Regions from separate parts of the Homo sapiens genome. Here all the other regions are linked to region 2. The links come from fine-mapping of genetic effects on gene expression. A gene starts in region 2. Each other region holds a variant in brackets. All regions are shown on one strand. Distances are from middle to middle.

What was found. PIP is the estimated chance that this variant, and not a neighbour inherited with it, causes the effect.
Region 1: its variant is the best candidate, but not a certain one, in a credible set for the expression of SLC25A4 in blood mononuclear cells (TOPMed, PIP 0.58).
Region 3: its variant is the best candidate, but not a certain one, in a credible set for the expression of SLC25A4 in Th1 cells (Schmiedel 2018, PIP 0.67).

The regions. Positions count from the first base shown.
Region 1 is chr4:185,235,917-185,244,098 of GRCh38, forward strand. All of the region lies in intron 1 of SNX25 (sorting nexin 25), which reads left to right. Among named protein-coding and RNA genes, the nearest start is that of SNX25, 30 kb to the left of the region's middle. RefSeq lists enhancers at 3,807-4,799, 4,800-5,791. The variant C/T (reference allele first, on the strand shown) is at 4,755.
Region 2 is chr4:185,139,971-185,148,152 of GRCh38, forward strand. It overlaps SLC25A4 (solute carrier family 25 member 4), which reads left to right and starts at 3,296. Exons shown (of 4, transcript NM_001151.4): 1 at 3,296-3,513; 2 at 4,794-5,280; 3 at 5,789-5,929; 4 at 6,844-8,182. The coding sequence starts at 3,403. The coding sequence ends at 7,001. RefSeq lists a silencer at 3,068-3,367.
Region 3 is chr4:185,372,635-185,380,816 of GRCh38, forward strand. LRP2BP (LRP2 binding protein) reads right to left here. Exons shown (of 9, transcript NM_001377440.1): 2 at 5,447-5,573; 3 at 4,275-4,384; 4 at 2,979-3,092; 5 at 1,685-1,827; 6 at 1,501-1,606; 7 at 222-445. The coding sequence starts at 5,552. It also overlaps a transcript of SNX25 not described here. Among named protein-coding and RNA genes, the nearest start is that of LRP2BP, 19 kb to the right of the region's middle. The variant C/G (reference allele first, on the strand shown) is at 4,901.

The DNA of each region.
Region 1 (8,182 bases), 96 kb after region 2:
GAGAGTGCAGTCCTGATAAACCAGAGCCGCTTGTCTATGTTCAGTACAGATGTACTGACAGAGGCCTGGAGTCAACACAATCTGTGGTAATTAACATTGTTGTCCCCCCTTGCAGGGAGCAGTCTGGTGTGCGGATGATCTAAGGTCGGTTTCCGGGCAACATAAGTAAATAAACTTATCTAGATAAACTCCTCTACATTCCCTTGCACCTACTTCTCACCCTCTGCCTCAGGGTAAGAGAATTAGCTGCCTTCAGCTTTATTCTCTCCCGAAGTTTTGCAAAACCTCCTGGCCTTCCAAGAAGGTTTGCATCTTTCCCTATAACTTTTTATAACTTTTCCCACCACCCTGACCAATCTCCTATAGTACCCAGGAGTTTGAGGCTGTAGTGAGCCATGACTGTGCCACTGCACTCCATCCAGCCTGGGCAACAGAGTGAGACCCTGACTGAAGAAAAAAAAGACTCCCCTGTGAAGCAAAAGAAAATTCTTGAGGCATTTAATCTTTTGAATCAAGTCAGAGTCCAAATCCACCTATATATTTTATAGACGCTTTTAGTATGATTTAGAACATTTTTGGTGGTACCAGTAGCATAACAGTGGCCACATTTTTTATTTAAATAGAAAAAAAAGATGGAGACAAACTAAATATAGAATAAGAGAATAAATTATGATATAAGCTATTCAAAACATTGTCTGAGTCTTTTATTATTATAAAAGATATTCATGATAAAATACTGAGTGTAAACAGCCAGATGCAAAGTTGTATGTATACCATGATCCCAATTTCTTTTAAAAAGTATACAGATGAAAAAGTTACCAATAATTTATTGTTGTCAGACATTGTTACAGTACTTGGTGTGTGTTAATTAATGCTCATATCAATTTTGTGAGGTAGGTACTATTGTTATCTATTTTACGTATGAGGAAAGTGAGGTATGGAAAAGTAACTTGCCCAAGGTTACATAGTAAGTGTTGGAATCACTGACAAGAAGGAAATGTACCAAAATGTTATTAGTGATCATCTGGATCATCATTATGAGTCAGTTTAATTCCTTACATCTATAATAGAGAATGTATTTCTGCTGTTTATGTAATTGGAAATAACAGTTTAAAAAGAAATTATAGCATTTTTGAAATTTAGGAAAACAGTAATATGAGAAAACTTGTAGGTTGAATTTTAAAGAATAGCTGCTCCTTCCTGTATCTAAAGTAGAAATTGTGCTTGACTAAGAGGGAAAAAAAGGCACAAATCCACTATTTTCTATTAATACACTCTCCCTAAATGATAACCTCTCAGTATCATGTTAACAATTTTCTGTTTTTTTTGATAAGGAAAGTAAGATATTCTTTAGTTCATGGTTCAGCACAATAAAAGCACAACTCAGGAAACTGTCAAACCAGGTTTTGTTTGGATACTTAAATGCTTTACGTCACAGCAAAACATCTCCAGGGAATGTGCGCTTTCCTCTCTGTAAAGCACATCCTCAAAGGCAAAAATACTTCAAGAATTATGTGCTCTGTTATGCTGTGTCTTACTGGTTGCTTAACTTTTCAACCCCTCCGTGCTTTTATTTCTGCCATTCCTGTGCCTTTAGAAAACCCCTCAATCAACCCACTTTGGATTTGTTGGAAGTTGGTAAACATTTTGAGTTGTATTTGTGATACTGTCTGGTGGGCGCTCTAAGAGCTTTGTGAGAGCAGCCATTACAGACTAGACGCCCACGGCTTGAACATGGCTCAAAGTTTAGCCCAAACAGTGGCAGCCTGCAGAGTTTGTAATAACGTTGAATTAGTTGGAGATATCGTCCAAAATTCATGACTTTTTTTTTTGGTGTTGTTGTTGGAAAAAAAAAAATCAGGCCGGGTATGGTTGGTTGCTCGTGCCTGTAATCCCAGCACTTTGGGAGGCCGAGGTGGGCGGATCACCTGAGGTCAGGAGTTCGAGACCAGCCTGGCCAACATGGAGAAACCCCGTCTCTACTATAAATACAAAAATTAGCCGGGCGTGGTGGCACGTACCTGTAGTCCCAGCTACCCAGGAGGCTGAGGCAGGAGAATCACTTGAACTCAGGAGGCGGAGGTTGCAGTGAGCCGAGATCACACCACTGCACTCCAGTCTGGGCTACAGAGCGAGACTCCATCTCAAAAAAAAAAAAAAAAAAAAAAATTTAGAGCACCTCTCAGCACAGTAGTTGCAATCCCCTTCACACATTTAGAGTCCTTGTCAGGCCCCTATCATCTTTTTTTAGATCCCTGATATTATTTATTTGATCCTCCTGAGGCATATTAGCCCACATAATAAGCAAGCTAGAGAGGGGAGTGGCTGGGTCAAGGACCTACCATTAGTAAATGGCAGAGTGGAGCCCGCCTGCCATGGGAGCCTGTGTTCTTTCTCTTAACACGGCTGCTTGGCTTCCAGGTGGGGAGTGACACTGTTGCTCATGTCATGATCTTTTGTCAGAATCTTAATCATATTAGGTGTAGGTGGCCTTTGAAGTTTCTTAGTCCCTTCTCATCCTTCTGAGGAGGGATATGCATATTTTCTTCATTTCTTTGGTTTTGAATAAATTAGTCTTTGAGGCTGAGGCAGAATATCGTTGTTTCGAAAGAGGTCCTGGTTTTGAGACTATCATAGTTTAAGAATGAGAGTATTAGTCATGAGATCCCAGTAGATTGTCAGATGCTGCATATACTTGGAGAGACTCAGCCATGGGACGGCTCCATGTGGTTAATGATGATTTTTGGGGAGTTTGTGTTTGCTTTTGTAAGATGAACCATTTCAGTAGCTTTATAGGATATTACACCTGTCACCCCTTGAACTCTGTACAACTGTTTTCCTTTTCAAAATAGCACCAAAAATACATCAAACTTTTAAATGTATGTAATGGAGGTGAGAGACACTTGTTTATTTGAGAAGACCAGGTAATAGGCATGAAGAAAATTGCACGTTACAGGTTGGCTGCCCTGGCTCCCAGTGAGCAGTGTCCTACTTAAAAACAGTGGACAATGAGGTGTGTATGTTGGCTGGATTCCAGGGAGTTCCTGATTGTTCAGTTGCTTCTGGTGTGAGTACTCAGGTTTCTCTGCCTGGCTTCTCTCTAGATGTTGTTTCCTCATAAGAGGGTCTGTAGTAGCCTTGACACAAAGACAGTTTGAGCGCATTACGGCTGGTACTCTGGAGTAAACAGAAAGCTGATATATATTCAGAAAAGGGTTTATTGATAAAACGTACATGCTTTTTCATGCTGAGGATCTGTCACATATATTAGAGAAAAGTTTTCTGCCAGGCGCGGTGGCTCACACCTGTAATCCCAGCACTTTGGGAGGCCAAGGCGGGCAGATCACTTGAGGTCAGGAGATCGAGACCATCCTGGCCAACACGGTGAAACTCCGTCTCTACTAAAAATGCAAAAAATTAGCCGGGCGTGGTGGTGGGCACCTGTAGTCCCAGCTACTCGGGAGGCTGAGGCAGGAGAATGGCTTGAACCCAGGACGCGGAGCTTGCAGTGAGCTGAGATCGCACCGCTGCACTCCAGCCTGGCAACAGAGTGAGACTCCGTCTCAAAAAGAAAAAAAATAAAAGCTTTCAAGTTTTGCTCTGTCTTTAGAAAAATACTCTGAAAATGTTCTTAAAATTTTCTCTCTCTGCAGAAAAACTCACTGGGTGATTAAAAATGATCTTGATACGTTGTTTTCAAATAGGTTTAAATCTTAAAATGAAGACAAAACTTTATTTTATTTTTGTTGTTGTTTTTTAAATCTTTTTTATGCTTTGCTTTCTTTTTTTTTGTTTCGGTTTTTTTTTGTGTGTGTTTTTCACTTATTTAAATAGAAAATAAGGTGTATTTTTTTTTTCTTTTTTTTTTTTTTTATTGATCATTCTTGGGTGTTTCTCGCAGAGGGGGATTTGGCAGGGTCACAGGACAATAGTGGAGGGAAGGTCAGCAGATAAGTGAACAAAGGTCTCTGGTTTTCCTAGGCAGAGGACCCTGCGGCCTTCCGCAGTGTTTGTGTCCCTGGGTACTTGAGATTAGGGAGTGGTGATGACTCTTAACGAGCATGCTTCCTTCAAGCATCTGTTTAACAAAGCACATCTTGCACCACCCTTAATCCATTCAACCCTGAGTGGACACAGCACATGTTTCAGAGAGCACAGGGTTGGGGGTAAGGTCATAGATCAACAGGATCCCAAGGCAGAAGAATTTTTCTTAGTACAGAACAAAATGAAAAGTCTCCCATGTCTACCTCTTTCTACACAGACATGGCAACCATCCGATTTCTCAGTCTTTTCCCCACCTTTCCCCCCTTTCTATTCCACAAAACCGCCATTGTCATCATGGCCCGTTCTCAATGAGCTGTTGAGTACACCTCCCAGATGGGGTGGTGGCCGGGCAGAGGGGCTCCTCACTTCCCAGTAGGGGCGGCCGGGCAGAGGCGCCTCTCACCTCCCGGACGGGGCGGCTGGCCGGGCGGGGGGCTGACCCCCCCACCTCCCTCCCGGATGGGGCGGCTGGCCGGGCAGAGGGGCTCCTCTCTTCCCAGTAGGGGCGGCCGGGCAGAGGCGCCCCTCACCTCCCGGATGGGGCGGCTGGCTGGGCGGGGGGCTGACCCCCCCACCTCCCTCCTGGACAGGGCGGCTGGCCGGGCAGAGGGGCTCCTCACTTCCCAGTAGGGGCGGCCGGGCAGAGGCGCCCCTCACCTCCCGGACGGAGCGGCTGGCTGGGCGGGGGGCTAACCCCCCCACCTCCCTTC[C/T]GGACGGGGCGGCTGCCGGGCGGGGGGCTGACCCCCACCTCCCTCCCAGACGGGGTGGCTGCCGGGCGGAGACGCTCCTCACTTCCCAGACGGAGTGGCTGCCGAGCGGAGGGGCTCCTCACTTCTCAGACGGGGCGGTTGCCAGGCAGAGGGTCTCCTCACTTCTCAGACGGGGCGGCCGGGCAGAGACGCTCCTCACATCCCAGACGGGGCGGCAGGGCAGAGGCGCTCCCCACATCTCAGACGATGGGCGGCCTGGCAGAGATGCTTCTCACTTCCTAGATGGGATGGCGGCCGGGCAGAGACGCTCCTCACTTTCCAGACTGGGCAGCCAGGCAGAGAGGCTCCTCACATCCCAGACGATGGGCGGCCAGGCAGAGACGCTCCTCACTTCCCAGACGGGGTGGCGGCCGGGCAGAGGCTGCAATCTCGGCACTTTGCGGGGCCAAGGCAGGCAGCTGGGAGGTGGAGGTTGTAGCGAGCCGAGATCACGCCACTGCACTCCAGCCTGGGCACCATTGAGCACTGAGTGAACGCGACTCCGTCTGCCATCCCAGCACCTCAGGAGGCCGAGGCTGGCGGATCACTCGCGGTTAGGAGCTGGAGACCAGCCCGGCCAACACAGCGAAACCCCGTCTCCACCAAAAAAATATGAAAACCAGTCAGGCGTGGCGGCGCGCGCCTGCAATCGCAGGCACTCGGCAGGCTGAGGCAGGAGAATCAGGCAGGGAGGTTGCAGTGAGCTGAGATGGCAGCAGTACAGTCCAGCTTTGGCTCGGCATCGGGGAGACCGTGGAAAGAGAGGGAGAGGGAGACTGTGGGGAGAGGGAGACCGTGGGGAGAGGGAGAGGGAGAGGAGGGAGAGGGAGAGGAGGGAGAGGGAGAGGAGGGAGAGGGAGAGGAGGGAGAGGGAGAGGAGGACAGGTGTATTTTTTTTTTTACAGGATAGCGGTCTGGTTCACCAAGAGCTTTTATGAGTTAATATTGTGATACGCATACTGAAAACTTAAAGCAAGAGTAGAGTACCCTGTCCTCGTTTCTGGACCAGGATACTGAAGATTATCAGTTATCCTTTGTGACAGTGGGCAAAGTACACGTATTTTTCTTTCATCTTTCCTAAAACAGGCATTTTAGGAAGATGATTGTCAGGAAGAGGTTGTCTTTACCTGAAGCCTATGCTAGCATAATAGAGTAAGTCTTTGGGGAAATCTGCCTTGTGAAGTTTCTTTTTTTCAAACCTATAAATAGGAGAATGAAGACAATTATTGTTTGGTTATCCTCAGAGCCACAGGAATTTATTCATGTTTTAAATTTGTTGAATTTTCATTAGCTTCTTTCTCTTTTTTTCTGAAATTTCATCTTGGGGAAAATGATTAGTGGATTCTACCCTTTTGACCTGAAAGAAATAAGAGTATGTAGTGGCTGCTCATTCAGACATGAGGAGATTCTGGCTTCAGAAATATTAAATCCGTAAAAAGGAATTTCCATGCAGAATGTGTACAGAAAACTTTTTCCTCTACTTTCATACCACAACAAACATAAACATAGAAGATTTTTGTGACCAAATGTGTGGGGTTTTTTTCCCCACACACCAAGCAAGCGGACACCAGCTGGGTGTCCTCTAATTGTTCCAGCATCGTCTACCTGGAGACAGTGTCAGAGCCCATAGATTAAGTGAAGCTCAGTCCCCAAGAGCCCTCAACCCCCCACCCCCAACGTCAGTCTGTAAGTCTGGGCTGCTGGAATTTCTTACCAACCAGCTTCAATTTGAGGTGCCCATGAGCCCCCTTTGGGTTCAGTTAATTTGCTGGAGCAGCTCACAGAACTCAGGGAAACGCTTACTTACATTTACTGGTTTATTGTAGAAGATATTGCAAAGGATGCAGATGAAGAAATGCTACGGTGAGGTATGGGGGAGGGGTGCGGAGCTTTCATGCCCTCCCTGGGCACCACCCTCCAGGAACCTCACATGTTCAGCTGTCCCGAAGCTCACTGAGCCCTGTCCTCTGGAGCTTTCCTTCCTCTAGAGTATAGGGTGGGATCTCTGATGGGAGGGTCCTAAGACCCACAGTCAGAGAGGCAGGGGCCCCTGAGAGTAGAAGGAGGGCAGAAAAAGGTCAGAGACTTGCCCCCGAGGCCCGACACACCCAACATTATAACAAAAGACTGTAACAAGGGCTGTGGGAGTTAGGAGCCAGGAACCCTGGATGAAAACCAATATATATCATAACACTGCACATAGTAACCCAGTTATTTTTGGCCCATGAGGTGTTTTTTTCTCTTTCCTGTTCTCCTGGCTTACAGATTCTCCATCAGGCTATGGGGATGGGATAGGAAAAAAGAACTGTTTTCTTTCTAGTAAGGGCCAGTGATTCCTAGCGGGTGGGATGTGGGAACTTCAGAACCAGATTGGAAAATCAGATTGAAAGAATAATAGGTAGGGGTTTTGCTTAAATAGAGCTAAAATAGAAAACATTATTCTCATAAACCCATCTCCCTTGCAATTTGATTTTTATTATGGTAAAATACTTATAAAATTTGCTGTCTGAACCATTTTTGAGTATACAGTTCAGTGATACTAAATGCATTTATAATGTTGTGCAACCATTGCCACCATCTATCTCCATAACTCTTTTCATCTTGTAAAGCTGAAACTCTGCTAGGCATGGTGACTCATGCTTGTAATCCCAGCACTTTGGGAGGCCTAGGTGGGAGGATCGCTTGAGGCCAGGAGTTCAAGACCAACCTGGGCAACATGGGGAAACTCCCATCTTTACAAAAAACTTAAAACATAGCGGGACACACACTTGTAGTTCTAGCTACTCAGGAGGCTGAGGGGGAAGGATTGCTTGAGCCGGGAGATTGAGGCTACAGTGAGCCAAGATTGCACCACTGTACTCCAGCCTGGGTGGCACAGTGAGACCCTATCAAAAAACAAAAAAACCCCCAAACTGAAACTCTATACCCATTAAACATTAACTCACCATTCTCCCCTTCCCCTAGCTCTTAGAGAAACCACCATTTTATCATTAAATAAATGAAAGGCCTTATTCAGATGTAGTCAGTAGTGACAAACATATGTTTGCATGTTACATGTAAGTATGAAGTAGTGAGATAAAAGAAATATACAGACACAGGGCAAGAGGTAGTAGATCTGTAACTAGGAAGATAAAAAATAAGAATAAAAAATTAAAAGTTTTGAAGGAAGTTATAAAGATAGACACATATCCAAAGAATATGCTTCAGATATGCATGTACTGTCAGTCATATTCATACCCAGCCCTTACAGGCAGTTTCCATTTTAAGAACTCAAATTCAGGAACAACTCCTTTCTTTCTTTTTTTTGAGACAGTGTCTTGCTATGTTGCCCAGGCTGGAGTGCAGTGGTGCAGTCCTGGGTCACCGCAGCCTGCATCTCCTGGGCTCAG
Region 2 (8,182 bases):
CTCCCGAGGGCATGTAAGGCCTCTCTTTTCTGAGAAAGTCCGTGGAAGCAGAGGACAGTGTATGAGTTTCCATGGAAAACCTCTTGTCAAGGATTCCAGCTATGACTCCTTCTATAGAACAGGATAACTGGAGAGTAGCCAAGGAGAAATATATCTCCCATTTAGAAAATATCCAAAACTCTGATTGGTAAAATTAAGTGTAACAAAGATGATACTACTTCCTGAATTCATATATTAATTAATATTTAATTTAGTTTAAATGTCTATTTAAAATCTTCTGGTGATGTTTAAACAATTGAACAACTTGATAGTAAAAATAAATCCAGACACATAAGCAGATAAAACTTTATTTTTTAAGTGATTGTAGAATCATATATCAGCCTATTTTTAAAAAATGAAGATCAAATAAATATGTCATAGTGTGGATATTTCATAAATTAAAGCTATTATGAGAACTTAATATATGACAAACTAGACTTAGTAATATAAGACAAATAATGGAGAGAAGAAAATATCTACTTAAGAATTAGTATTGGGATACCCAAGCATGATATGGAGAAAAGTGAAATTAGACCCATACCTCCATACAATATAAAACGTAGTGTTAGACATTTTAAAAATAGCTACTCAAAGTAGAAGAAAAAAACTGATATATGTACTAGAGTAAATAGACTGCTATATCTATAAAAGAGATACATTTACATCAGAACATGAAATAGATCATCATCATACCATAGATCTGTTCATAACACTAATAGAATGATATAATAAATATCAAAAGGAAAACAACAAAATGAAAAACATTCAACACATATTTATTGTCCCAAATATATAAAGAATTGTTGTTAATATAAATACTCTGCTTTCACTCCAGCAGTAGTCAAGGAAGATTAAAAGTTTATACAAAAGGGAAACCTTGTCAAACTGTCAAATTAAATTGAATCATATGGAATATATACAGCTTCATAGTAATTAAGTAAATACAAACTAAAACTCATAAATAACTCACAAATAACCAACTCTCTATTTTTTTAAAGCCAGTGTTGGAGAAGAGTGTGAGAGAAAGCCCATCTATATAACTGGTGGGTTGGTATTTCTGAAGAGCAATTTGTCAATATGTAGCAAAAGCTACAAAACTTTAAAAATCTTAAATCTATCCATTCCATTTGGGAAATATATGAGAAGAAAAAACTTAGAGGAGAAAATGAAGTTTGTGTAAGTTTCAATGTAGCAGTATTAGTTTTCCTTCCTTCCTTCCTTCCTTCCTTCCTTCCTTCCTTTCTTTCTTTCTTTCTTTCTTTTTTTTTTTTTGAGTCAGAGTCTTTCTCTGTTGCCCAGGCTGAAGTGCAGTGGAGTGATCTCAGATCACCATGACCTCTGCCTCTCGGGGGTCTCGTGCCTGAGCCTCCTGAGCTGCTGGGATTCCAGGCATGAGCCATCACGCCAGGCTAATTTTTGTATTTTTAGTAGAGATGGGGTTTTGCCATGTTGGCCAGGCTGGTCTCGAACTCCTGACCTAGGTAATCTGCCAGCCTCAGCCTCCCAAAGGTATGAGCCACCACACCCGGCCTATTTTTCATCATAAAAATAAGACACAATTCTAATGCACAATTAAAAGGAAAATGGAGGTATAAAAGCAAGTGCTCTATATTACAGGATGGGATACAGTACACTATTATAATTAAAAAGGTTTACTGTGTGGATTATGCTGATCCATGGAAATCAGTAAGTGAAGTTTTGATAAAGTGGAGCAAGTGACGAATACACTGAACTGTAAGGTCTTTGGAGATGGGCCACGTCTACTTATATTCAATCCACAGGGCTACACCTAGTTCTTGGTACACAGTACATGCTCAGCAAGAGTCTGTTGAATGAACACATACATGGTTTATCTGTTTGTCTCTTCCGAGTTCTTGACTTCTGTCTGCTCTGACCTCTGGCAGCTTTCCACTAGTTTCTAGCTTTCATTCTGCTTACCTGGATTTCGGAACTCTAGCCTGCCCCACTCTTAGATAAACGCATGCCCTCTGTGGCCCTGGAACCTTAGTGACTTCTGCTATACCAAAGTCTCCACGCCCAGGGTGACACGCAGCTGCAGCTCCGTAAACCTCTAACATGATGTCAGCAAATATTAAAAAAAAAAAGTTTATAAAACAATGAATAAACTTTGTTAAAGGTACAAATGAAAATTAGCAAACATGGGAAGATAATTGAGTGAAGAGTTTAAAGTTAAAAACGAATTGCAGTCATTCTAGGGGAAGGAACAGTTGTATTTGAAAACCTGTATGGTTACATGAACTGCCTAAAAAACAAGCTAAGGAAAATTAAAGCTCAGATTTATATATTTTAAGAAATTAATTGCAATTAATTTCCTGGGATTAAATAGCATTTCCTCAACCCCAGCTGTCATTAAAAAGAGGCAAATACAGCCAAGGACTGGATCTCCGGAAGGCTGACAGCACTGACCCTCAAGAAGGCACCGGCTGACAGACAGAACATTCTGCCCTAATATGTGCTGAAATTCCGCTGAGAGCAGAGTGGTACATTGAACCCTTTAGGGGCTTACAAAAGAAGTGTCCTGTGTTTTAGAGTCACAGAGTTTTGCAGAAACAAGTATGAATTCACCTAGTGGCCCCCTGCACCAGGTCTTTCCTGTGGGCACTGAGTGCCAGACACATCAATATGTAATAGCAGAATGAATGACTGAACGAACGATTGAATGAAAAGAAATGAGAGGCAGCAGGTTGTCAGATTCTATGAGGCAATCACAGCATCAGGTGACCTTAGTATCTATTTGAGAGGACTGCCATTTATTCTCGGGAGCGCACGGCTCTAAAGAGGCCCATATCCAGGCAGTGAGCTCTGGTGGGGGGCGCCTTTAGATGCAAGAAGGAGGAAACAGCTCGAAATCCCTGGGCCTGAGCGCGGCCCGTGCAGGCCGGAGGGTCAAGAACTCTCCACCGGCGGCAGCGGCCCGGTGTCTGCCCCGGCTTCGCCCCGGCCTAAGGCTGCCTGTGCTATAAATACGCGGCCCACATGCCGCGGTGACACGGTGTTCCCTGGGCTCGGCGGGACAGATAACATGAATGTGCCCTTTAAACGTCCCAAGTTGCAGGGACAGCCCCCGGCCCAGCCTCGCTCCCGGAAGCGCCTTCGCCCCCGATGCCCTCTGCAGCTGGGAGGAGGGGGCGCCCCGCACCTGCCCAGCCAATGCGCGGCGCGAGCGCCGGCCGCGACCCGCCTCCTCTCGCGAGAGCCCGGCGGGGATATAAGGGGGAGCTGCGGGCCAGGCGGCGGCCCCCTAGCGTCGCGCAGGGTCGGGGACTGCGCGGCGGTGCCAGGCCGGGCGTGGGCGAGAGCACGAACGGGCTGCCTGCGGGCTGAGAGCGTCGAGCTGTCACCATGGGTGATCACGCTTGGAGCTTCCTAAAGGACTTCCTGGCCGGGGGCGTCGCCGCTGCCGTCTCCAAGACCGCGGTCGCCCCCATCGAGAGGGTCAAACTGCTGCTGCAGGTGAGGACCGCGCGGTGCAAGAGGCGGGCGCGGGCGCGGCGGGCCGGGCGGGGCGCGCGATGCGGCGCGAGCTGCAGGGCGCGGGGCGCCGCGGAAAATCTGCGCCAGGCCACAGGCCCGGGCGCCCGCCCGCCCGCCCGCCCGCCCGCGGGGGAAGAAGGTGCCCTCTGCGTAGAGACAGGTCCAGCGTCAGTCGCAGATTCCTGGTGTCGGGTGGCGCCCGGCGTTCGGGTGTCTATATATGGAAACCCACCCGGAGCCGGTTTACGTGTGCCAGATCCTGCGCCCGTGACAGCACGGGCGTGCACTCAGGCCCGGAGGCACCTAGTGATTGCCAGTATTTTTGGCACCGTCTTATGCGCACGCACCTTTACAATAAAAACATCAAAATAATCATCACCCAAGAATTCCCTTATCGTATCTCATGCACAATGCTGTATGTAGGCTGACGCCTTCATCTTTATGTAACCTCTGTGAGAGAGTTATTCTTCTCCATTTTACAGATGAAGCTGAGGTTTTGAAATATTAAGAAACAATTTTCGGAATAAACTCAGATCATCCTGTCTCCAAATCTTTTCCTCCCCTACCTGGTCGCTGAATGGTTTATCATCCTCTCGTGTTTTCCTCCACCTGCCCAAAAGGTCAGGGCCCCTCAATGAGGAAGAGCCCAATTTGGGAGTCAGAATTACTAACAACAAAACCCCCACAAATTGCTCACAACGGCAGCAAACCCTTAATAATTGATTACTTGGATTATCTGCTTGAAAACTTTGGAGGCCTAATGTTTAGTGGATTTATTCTCCTTCCTCTATTAGAGCATCTAGTAGAGATCCTCATCTCCAGGGTGATCAGAGTGACACTGAGAAATTGTCATTTTTTGGCCATCATGTCTATTAAATCCAAAGCCCTTTGAAGCAGGGAGTGTTACTCATTTCTGTCCCCCAGTAAGCCCCTCATACAGTTCTCAAACCTAGGGAAAGTGAAATAAATAAATGGCTATAGCTTTATATAATTCAATCACCTTTTCAGTTTATTTGGGGCAATACCTTTTCCCTCAAATACCCTAATAATTGAAGCAACATTGGATTATTTTGGCTTGTTATCCAGTAACTAACATGGATAACAGTATCCATTTACACGTCCTCAGTATCCATTTGATTTCCTCATCCTTTTTTTCTTCAAAAAAAAAATCTAGGAAGTGCAAACCTTTTTTTTTCTCCTGTCCTCTTCCCTTCTCTCTACCCTGCCTGTCCTCTGTCACCCACCCTCCCCTCCACCAGGTCCAGCATGCCAGCAAACAGATCAGTGCTGAGAAGCAGTACAAAGGGATCATTGATTGTGTGGTGAGAATCCCTAAGGAGCAGGGCTTCCTCTCCTTCTGGAGGGGTAACCTGGCCAACGTGATCCGTTACTTCCCCACCCAAGCTCTCAACTTCGCCTTCAAGGACAAGTACAAGCAGCTCTTCTTAGGGGGTGTGGATCGGCATAAGCAGTTCTGGCGCTACTTTGCTGGTAACCTGGCGTCCGGTGGGGCCGCTGGGGCCACCTCCCTTTGCTTTGTCTACCCGCTGGACTTTGCTAGGACCAGGTTGGCTGCTGATGTGGGCAAGGGCGCCGCCCAGCGTGAGTTCCATGGTCTGGGCGACTGTATCATCAAGATCTTCAAGTCTGATGGCCTGAGGGGGCTCTACCAGGGTTTCAACGTCTCTGTCCAAGGCATCATTATCTATAGAGCTGCCTACTTCGGAGTCTATGATACTGCCAAGGGTGAGAGAGGGGCATCGGGGAGAAGGAGGGTGGTGTGGAAAGAGGATCCTATGGGATCTATAACTCACAAAGGACCTGATATATATTGATCTTGTTTTTTCTAGTCTCTGGGATAATTGAGGCTTCTGAATGAGGAGGTGATGTGCATAAGTTAATAGCTGAAGCGTTCCTTGTGTCCTCTACTGAAATAAACTCTGGCCTTTAGTTATTCAGAGAGGAGGAGGGGGGAGCCTGTCTCCCTCTAGACACAGCCATAGCAGTTACTGAGTTTAACTTGAAGCCACTTCCAATGCCCTGTATACAAGCTGAGCACTGCCCCTCCGGGGTCCGGAGAGGGCAGCAGCCACCTTTGCTGTCTGCCTGGTCATATGTGAAGCACCTGCACAGGGGCAGGTTCCCCGCAAGGTCAGAGCATGGAGCTGGAGGTGCAGTGGCCTCTCTCCCTCCACCTGCTTTCTGCTGAGAACAGGCACTTCATAGCCGTTCGGCTTCTGGGCTCTGTCCACAGGGATGCTGCCTGACCCCAAGAACGTGCACATTTTTGTGAGCTGGATGATTGCCCAGAGTGTGACGGCAGTCGCAGGGCTGGTGTCCTACCCCTTTGACACTGTTCGTCGTAGAATGATGATGCAGTCCGGCCGGAAAGGGGGTAAGCTTGTGCTCTACTCATCTAAACTTGTTTGGTTTTGCCCGAGGAGAACATTTTACAGGGCTCCTTTCAGTCTTCCTTACTGGAAATTAATTTTCAAAATTATTTGATAAGGACTTAGGGAAGAAAGATGGTATTAATTCCCCCTAACGTTCTCAACTATCCTATTAGGGAAAAGTATTTTCCATTTTATTAGAGATGATAAGAACATGAATAGTAAGACATTTAGATGTGAATTTAACTAGGTATCCAGCATTATAGAGACCCTAGGCCCTCTTCCCTTAGAGCCTGGGTGCAAAAGCTAGGGAAAAGAAGTAGTTAGCTACTTCTTACAAAGAACTCTTGCTTCCCTCCTAGTTACAGGTGTTAGTGGGATGGGGTGTTTAGCTGGGTAGAGATGGCCTGAAGCAATCTGTTGTGCCAGAGAAAGTTTTGGCTTCTATAGGTTGAACCATACGAAATTGCCACTTTAAAAGTCAAAAACAGTCCAATGTTAGCAGTTTCGTATGTTTCAACGAATAGTTACAGCCTTTTATTTAGACTGCATAACCTCGTGCAGGATCATCTGAGGCTCGGCCTCAGTTCGGTCCTCCATAAAAAAAGGTAACCGCGTAGCATAATACTCCTGCTCCACTGCGCCCTTCTTGTTTCGCAGTTGGGCAGTCCATGAATTACTTGGTTAATTGCCCCAGTTCTTCACTGACCTTGAACTAATGGAGTAGGAATGACAGGAGACCCAGCCTGCCAGTGAAGCAAGGAAGGAGATGTCCAGTGGGATGTTGCATGGAGCTGGGACTCCATGCCCAGATGACCCTGATTTTATAAAACTGGTAACAGTGTGTACAGATATGTTTCAGGGGAAAAGTCTCTTTCCTCCAGCGTTACGGAGCCCTCACCAGCATTTGTTTCCACAGCCGATATTATGTACACGGGGACAGTTGACTGCTGGAGGAAGATTGCAAAAGACGAAGGAGCCAAGGCCTTCTTCAAAGGTGCCTGGTCCAATGTGCTGAGAGGCATGGGCGGTGCTTTTGTATTGGTGTTGTATGATGAGATCAAAAAATATGTCTAATGTAATTAAAACACAAGTTCACAGATTTACAGTGAACTTGATCTACAAGTTCACAGATCCATTGTGTGGTTTAATAGACTATTCCTAGGGGAAGTAAAAAGATCTGGGATAAAACCAGACTGAAAGGAATACCTCAGAAGAGATGCTTCATTGAGTGTTCATTAAACCACACATGTATTTTGTATTTATTTTACATTTAAATTCCCACAGCAAATAGAAAATAATTTATCATACTTGTACAATTAACTGAAGAATTGATAATAACTGAATGTGAAACATCAATAAAGACCACTTAATGCACGCTTTCTATTTTATTGAACTCTTATTAACTGTAAAATGCATTTTTAAAAGATCAAAAATGCATATTTTCTAGCATGATTCATGTATCAGTCAGCAGCCAAGCTTCTAAATGCCAGATATTATATTGAGAATGTATTATATGAGAACGTACAATGCTTAAAGTTCCGGTTTTCAAACTTAGGCAGGTCATATTCTATCTATCTTATCCAGCATTACTGTAGGCTAGAAAGTGATAATGGCTTTCATAATCCTGCCTTGTCTTAGGCACTTTCCTGCAGTCTTTAGAAATTCTAAGATTCTGCTAAAAGTTTTAAATCACAATCTGGAGAATTTTCTATGATTAGGAAGTGCTCTGTTTTCATCCCTTTAGATAACTGTGACACCTAGAATTTTATGTTAAGTAGAGAGTATTCATTGAAAATCAAGGCCAGGTGCAGTGGCTCACACCTGTCACCCCAGCACTTTGGGAGGCAGAGGTGGGCGTATCACTTCAGGCCAGGAGTTTGAGACCAGCCTGGCCAACCGAGCGAAACCCCATCTCTAATAAAAATACAAAAAATTAGCTGGGTGTGGTGGCGCACACCTGTAATCCCAACTACTCAGGAGGCTGAGGCATCAGAATCACTTGAACCCGAGAGGCAGAGGTTGCAGTGAGCTGAGATGGCATGCCACCACATCCATCCTAAGCGACAGGGCAAGACTCTGTCTCAAAAAAAAAAAAAAGAAAGAAAATCAGTTGTCTTAGTTTAAGCTACTATAACAAGGTACTGTAGACTGATGGCTTATAAGCAACAGAAACTTATTTCTCAGTTCTGTAGTCTGGAGGTCCAAGATCAAGGTGACACTGTGGTCAGGTTCTGATGAGGGCCCTCTTCTGGGTT
Region 3 (8,182 bases), 230 kb after region 2:
GCCATGAGAGCACCTCCCTCATGAATAGGACTAAAGCCCTTTTTATAAAAGAGGTTTCCTGTAGCTTTCTGCTGTCACGTGAGGACATGATGGTCCTCCCCTCTGGAGGTTGCAGCCCTCTCCTGGCCTCTGGAACTGTGAGAAATAAATTTCTGTTTCTCATAAATTACCTAGTGTGTGATATTCTGTTACAGCAGCACAGAACAGACAAAGACATTCACCTTTTGGAAAATGCAACACACTTTGTAAAAAATTTCATCTTATAGTAATACTCCACGAGATTCCCTTGAGCATAGACGTTTCCGCGTTCTGCTGCTTCTCTTAAGCACTGCAGGGCAGCTTCCGTATCCTGCCGGATGCCTTGTCCATACAAGTACATGAGCCCAAGTGCACCCTGGGACTCCAGATTCCCATTGCCACATGCTTCGGAATGCCAGTAAAATGCCTAAGAAAAGCACAGTTTCATCATTGTATTTGTGATCCACTAGATGAAATTATAAGGGAATACTAGACAGAAAAGAACTCTGTGTTTCCTAGATAGCACTATTAATCATCTCTAGGAAAGAGCGGTAGGCCTTTGGACGCATTTCACACTAGCACACATGCCTAACACAGTGTGGAGGCGAGTTCCTCCGCTGTCTGTCCACAGTGCAGGTGAGATCACAGTCCAGGCAGCTTATGGCAGAGGAAGACCAGCTGTCCTAGGTTTCAGGATTTGGGGATCTTCAGAGTAAGGATCAGGAAGATGCCAAATAGGAACTCAGTGTCTGAAAGGCGTGAGGCACAGCAGAGGAGGGGAAACCACTGATGCTAAGGGAGAGTTCGAGCTCCCGGTGGATTCTAGAGATAGCAGCTGCTGCGATCAAAGACAACCCAGGATAAACGCTGTATGTAGGCTCAAGCACATTTGCCTCATACTCTGCTACAGTGAATTTGAATTCATTTAAAAAATTCCAGATGGCTGCTTATCTATCCAAAGATGGCCTTAGTTGTTATGTGTCTCTTGCAAATTTGCCATTAACTCCTCTCTCACAAGTAGGACTCAGCCCCCATTTCCTTCTCCTTATAGGATTTTTTGGAAACTGTTTCAACCATTGATGAAAGAGATTATATTTCTGTGAAAATCTTAGATGGATTTTATTTGTAACTAATTCTTGGTATATTTTACTTATTAGTATCAATTTCTCAAGTCAACGGTAATATTCATCTGTTCATGCTTAGAAGGATTTTGGCTGTAATTTCAGGACTGTTTCTCTTCTTTTAGCTTTGATACTATAGTATACAAAATACTCTCACATTCATGGTTTCCTTCGGTAGAGGTAGGGAAGGGGACATTTATAAATAAAAGGGCTTTGAGATCCTAAAATGTATGCTTTCTTTACATTTAAAGGAACTATAAGAGATATTTAAAACGACATTCCCCACCATTTTCTCAAAAAAAGCAGTGAAACAAATATTAATCTAAATATAACACTAGCATTAAAAAAGAGGGAACGTTACCTTTTCTAACTCCTTGGGCTCCTTGGTTGAGTAATACAGCCCGAGCATACTTTGAGCCTTCACACTAGCTTTGGGATTTCCATTGTCTGCTGCGATAAGCCACAGTCTACAAGAGAAAGTGAGGCATGTTATTCTCGGTTTCAGCATTTCCTTCAAACCTAATCTTGTTCTCAGGTAGGATTACCTTTCAGCTTCCTCATTTGATCGTTTAACACCTTTTCCTTCATAATAAGCTCTTCCGAGGTTGTAAGCAGCTGCAAATTTTAAGTGTCTTGCTTTGGGACATGGAGAATCAAGAATTTTCTTCATATAGTCCACCCCTTTCTCCTTCGACAAAAGAAAGAGCAAAAAAACCCTAGTTTTTAGTTTTACCCAAACTGAATTTCTTTCTCCCAATAAGGCTGTGAAGTGTCCGCCCTCTGACACGATGTATAATACTATGAATCTGTGCCCAAGGGGTACAATTGTCCTGGATTCTGCAGGGCAAGCGATAAGGAGGAAAAGAATCTCTAAAAGTACATCTCCTACTCAGGCACTCCCAGGAGCTCTGGGATATAAGAAATTTCCTTCCTTTTACAGCTGCCTGAGTTGATTTAAGTCTCGATATGGGCTTCCTTTTTTCTCTCCTCCCTCCCATCTAATAACCCTTATCCTGAATCAGCACAGTTCTTAGAACTGGCTAAAGTGGAAGAATGGCCAGGAACAGCTTTCACATTTATAATTCTTACGATACACTTGCGAGCCCCTAACAAACACCGTCTTCCATTCAAGCATACTTTTACTGTGTGCTCATAGTTTGTATCTAATATACAAATCTTATGCACTAATACGACATCTGCTACGTGGTCACAAGGAAAGCATAGAAGATATTCTAACCACTAGCAAGAACAGATCTGTACCCTCCACCCCCAAATCCATCAGACACAAACCTTCAAACATCACCCAAAAGAAGAAAATAATATTGGACAATCAAATATATTTTGGTTTTTGTTTGTTTGAGACAGAGTCTTGCTCTGTCACCCAGGCTGGAGTGCAGTGGCATGATCTTGGCTCACTGCAGCCTCCCAGGTAGCTGGGAATACAAGCATGCACCACCATGCCTGGCTAATTTTTGTATTTTTAGTAGAGCCTGGCCAACATGGTGAAATCCTGTCTCTACTAAAACTACAAAAATTAGCCAGGCGTGGTGGCAGTGCCTGTAATCCCAGCTACTGTGAAGGCTGAGGCAGAAGAATCACTCGAACCCGGGAAGCAGAGGTTGCAGTGAGCCGAGGTCGCGCCATTGCACTCCAGCCTGGGCGACAGAGCGAGACTCCGTCTCAAAAAAAAAAAAAAAAAAAAAAAAAAAAAAAAATATATATATATATATATATATATATATGTATATATATATGTATTAAAATATAAATAATTTTAATTGTGTCCAATAATCCACTGACAATGAAATCTTAACCACTGTGACCAAGACATTAACTTACAGCGTCTAGAGTGGTCCCCAGCCCATCATAGTACATCACTCCTAGCTGGTAAGTTGCTTGATGGTCTTTCTCCTTGATTTCTTCAAACTGTTCTAATGCTTCTTCATACCATCCCTAGAAGCACCCAGAAGATATTTAATTATTTTTATTATGATCTTAAAGTAATCCCAAAGGCACCAAGTGGTCAAGTGTTTGTGCCCAAGTTAAACACACAGTTAACAAGCAATGCAGCCATATCTGAACCCATGCCCCACGCTGAGGAAGCATGCTCTCAGCCATGGTGCTCTGCCATCCTCAGAGTAACAGGCGCACGATGAGCCCTCAGCAAACATTTGTTGCCAGGATAGACGAAGGTGCCATCGAAAAGTGAGAGAGTAAGTGGGATATAGGTGAACAGCTGCCCAAATAGTCAACAAATGGTGAAAGACAGTCAGTCCCTTTTCAAGTCTTCCCGGGGAAGTCAATGAAAAACCGAAACTACATTACTGAAGTTGAGGGGACAGCTGGCATAGCCATTCCTCAGTCTACTTCCCAGGCCACCCCAACAAGATGTGGAGAAAGAGGGCGATTTCCTCCTATGCTATCCAGGAACAACTAAAGCTTCCCCTAAGTACTAGATAAAAATCAAGGCTTCAATTATTATTAATATGAAGATACCTGGTAATACAAACATACTTTTTTTTGAGAGGGAGTCTCGCTCTGTGGCCCAGGCTGGAGTGCAGTGGCACGATCTCAGCTCACTGCAACCTCTGCCTCCTGGGTTCAAGCGATTCTCTGCCTCAGCCTCCCAAGTAGCTGGGATTACAGATGTGTGCCACCATGCCCAGCTACTTTTTTTTTTTTTTTTTTTTTTGTATTTTTAGTACAGATGGGGTGTAGCCATGTTGGCCAGGCTGGTCTACAACTCCTGACCTCAGGTGATCCACCTGCCTCGGCCTCCCGAAGTACTGGGATTACAGGCGTGAGCCACCGCACCCGGCCTGATAATATAATTTGTATTATTAAATATTTTGAGCAAAAATATAAAAATTTGATTTTTAATCTATAGTGTGAAATGGATTTTATACTAAAACGACTCCCATAAATGGCTTTCATGACATGGATTTTATGAAGAAAAGTCAGGTAGCTCCTCAAGCTGGCAGCACTGTATCCTACTGTTAAAGCCACAGCCATAGTCGATGTAATTGGACAGAATTTCCCTAGTATAACACAGTAAGAAACTCTACATGAAATTTTTGTCTGAGGATCTAACAACAGAATTACAGGAAATGAAAACGAATAAACAAAAAATGATACCTCTTCAAAATATAGTTGACCTCGTAGGAAATATGCCAGAGTGTCTCCTTTCAGTATTCTTTCCTTCAAGAGCTGCAATGCCTTATCCACCAAATTAGCATGGGTGTAATCTGATTTTAAAAAGGTAAGGAATTCCATCAACCACACAATATGAATTTTCTCTCTTGAAGTAATGAATCATATAAAATCCATCTAACACTGTTGACATTCTTGCTTTCTAGTGCTCATTCCTACAACTGGCCTCCTTAGCTCAAGGAAGAAATATTACCTGAAAAAACGTCATGGTCACAGGCCCTAACACTGTGCCTTGTGTAATAAAGCAATACTGGCCGGGCGCGGTGGCTCACGCCTGTAAATCTCAGCACTCTGGGAGGCCGAGGCGGGTGGATCACCTGAGTTTGGGAGTTCAAGACTAGCCTGACCAACATGGAGAAACCCCGTCTCTACTAAAAATGCAAAATTAGCAGGGCGTGGTGGTGCATGCCTATAATCCCAGCTACTCGGGAGACTCAGGCAGGAGAATAGCTTGACCCCAGGAGGCGGAGGCTGCGGTGAGCCAAGATTGCATCACTGCACTCAAGCCTGGGCAACAAGAGCGAAACTCCATCTCAAAACAACAACAACAA[C/G]AACAAACAATACTTGTTGATTGGTTTCACACTAACCCTGCTCATGGCCAAGTAGAGCCCTAACAGTGCAGGGCTGGGTATAAGTCTATGCATTGGTTTGTCTTCAATGGGCAAAGCTCTCTGGAGAGGTGAGTTAAATTCTTAATTTGAGCCTTAATGAGAGTTCCTCTAACCAAATGAGCAACCCATCCCTAATATAACATTTTTAAGACTTTAGGGAAGATAAGGTATTTAAATAATAATTGCAAGTCAAGCCTGGCATTGTTCTCTTTAACAAACGTGACATCTGCTTTCTGTTTTCTAGAAGCATGTCCTTAAGTCCTGAGAGTAAAATCAAGACCTAACTATCTGTGAGACCTCACTGACGATTTGCTACCAGATAAATGAGCAATTTCACAGATTCTTGCGGGAAAACTCAAAAGGACTAATGATTAACCACTTCCTTGAAATCAATAAAACACATTATTTCTTGTCTCGTTTGCTCTAGCATGCAAAATGAACTGTTAAAGTGTTTTCCAAGGGAAGCTTAAATATCAGGATTTGTACCAGTCTTTTCCTTTTTCCACTGGAAAAATTTTTGGTTTTTAGCAGCATACTGAGATACAGAGGCATAAAAGGGGTTCTTGGGCAACTTTTCACTGGTCAACTTCATCCTTTTTCTGCAATGTGTATTCTATAAGCAAGAAGAAAAAATAAGTGGTAGAAATTTCTTCCTCCAGCGAAGTGCAAAGAGAGACTCTATTCCCACCAGGTGCTCATTAGGAAAAGCATCCTTCTCTCATCGCCTAGATAGAACACCAACCACCAACTCCAGGACGTGAACATTCTTTACTAGGACACCAAGACCCTCCTCCCTAGCTGAGAGACAGCCATTCTCCATGTCATTTTCCACAGCATCGCATTCACCATGAGACCTGTTTGCACGTCCTGTCTGGCTATGGGTTTATACATCAAGATGGGTCAAGTCACCCAGCACAAGTGTTGCCACTTAGTGGGACCTGGTGACACTGCCCACAGTCAGAGCTCTTCTGCACTGGTACCTTCTCTGCCCTTGTAACTGACACTCATCGGACGAATCCATTTCAAATTAAAGCACTTGTCTATTTTACCTGGGAATACACTTTATTTTAGCTGTTGTTGAGTTTTATCTTCCTGTCTGTATTGGATTGCCATGTTATAAGATGGATCACAGTTGAATGGTAAATCAGTGTCTTCATATAAAATGTAGCGGTCACCTCATTTGGGGTGAAGGAGTCCAGGTTGGCCTAGGCTGAGGGTAGTGAGACAGCAAACTCAGTTGTTGCTACACTTTTGTATTTACTCCTTGGCATTCCACTGTTATGGCTTACTTTCACCAATCAGAAACAAGCTTCCAGCAAAGGTTCCTGATTGGTGGTCAAGAGAAGAAATAGAGAGACCCTTAGTGTGATTGGAAAGCTGCATTTTTATATCATTCCATGATGCTATTTTAGACAATAAATTGCTTAAGTGAGAATGAAGTGCAGAAAAAAGGAACATTTAGTAGGGGAAAAAAATCACTGAATTATCTTTGTGATTTTGGAAGAGTCATTTAATCTTTTTAAGAGTCAATTTCCTCATCTTTAAGTTGGACTATAAGTGGTCTGCATTAAAGGATTTTATAATGTTCCTTTTTAGATATATACAATTCTTGATTATATGATTCCCCAAATCTTATGGTTGCCTTTAGTGAATATGAAATTTCCCAATGAGCTTTACTTAGGGTGAAGCAATATTAGGTAAGGTATTAAGAAGAAAAACAATCCCTATCGGATGGTGCAGATAGCACTCATTTATGACTGAAAGATTGGATGTGGAAGTTTTATTTTCATTGAAGACATTAACTCAATATGCTACTTATCCAAAAAGGCTAAGAAAAAACTGGCATATTCAGGAAGGGCATCAGAAATGAAACAAATCAGAAAACAATACCTTACTTTGTTTAAAACTCATGTTGCCTTTTGTGGTTAGAAGACTGCACATGGTTTTTGCTGCTGTAGCTTAAAAGAAGTTTTGGAGATGTTTGGAAAACTAAATCAAAGATTTACTGAGCTCTTATTAAATGCCAAGTATTGACCTTTGTTGTAAGGCTTTCTAGGCAGCGCCGACAAAACTTTACGAAATAAGGTTCATTATGAGGCTCGTTTAACGTATGGGGAAACCAAGGGACAGTGGGGAAGTTAAGTAACTTGCCCAAGGCCACAGGGCTAGTTAAGGACAGGTAAGCAGAACAGCTGGCGTGTCCCAGCACCTGCGCACTTCTCTCTCTCTCTCTCTCTCTCTGAGACAGCGTCTCACTCTGTCATCCAGGCTAGAAGAGTGCATTGGTACAATCATAGCTCTCAACTGCAGCCTCAACCTCTTGGGCTCAGGTGATCCACCCACCTCAGCCTCCCAAGTACTTGGGACTACAGGCATATGCCATGACATCCAGCTAATTCCTTAAAATTTTTGTAGAGATGGGGTCTCCATGTTATGCAGGCTGGTCTCAAGTTCCTGGGCTCCAGCAATCCTCCTGTCTCAGCTTCCCAGTGTGCTGCGGTTACCGCAGTGAGTCACCGTGTCCAGGCAATACAATAAATATTGCCTTTTTGATGGATTTACTGGGTATTTATTGGATTGACTAGATATTTATTATGTTTTGGGAATTTTTAGCTTCCTGTCTTGGATTGGCGTCTTTTATTAGCTCCCAAACATTCTCAGGGATAATTTATTTGTGTTTGTTAGTTTCCTGGGGCCGCTAAAACAAAATATCAAAAACTTTGTGGCTTAAAAGAACAGAAATTTCCTCTCTCACAGTTCCGGAGCCTAGAAGTCCAAAATCAAGGTGTTGGCAGGGCCATGCTTCCTCTGGCCCTAGGGAAAAATCATCCTAAGCATTCCCCACCAGCTTCTGGTGGTTTCTGGTGATGTCTGGTGTTCCTAGGCTTGTAGTTGCACAACTCAACCTCTGCCTCTGTGTTTACATGGCCTTCCCTTCATGTCTCCTCTATCTCTGTGTGTCCTCTCCTCCCTCTTATGAGGACACCAGTCATTGGAGTTGGCACCCACCCTAATCCAACATGACTTCCTCTTAACTTGATTACATGTAAAATATCCTATTTCCAAAGAGGTTCACATTCACAGGTTTCAGGAGTTAGCACTCAGATATATCTTTGGTTGGAAACACAAGTCAACCCACCATGCTCTTCAGAGGCCCCAATCTATTTCATTTTTCTCTCCAGCATTTTGATAAGACCTTCTCCTCATGTCTCTTAAATTTGC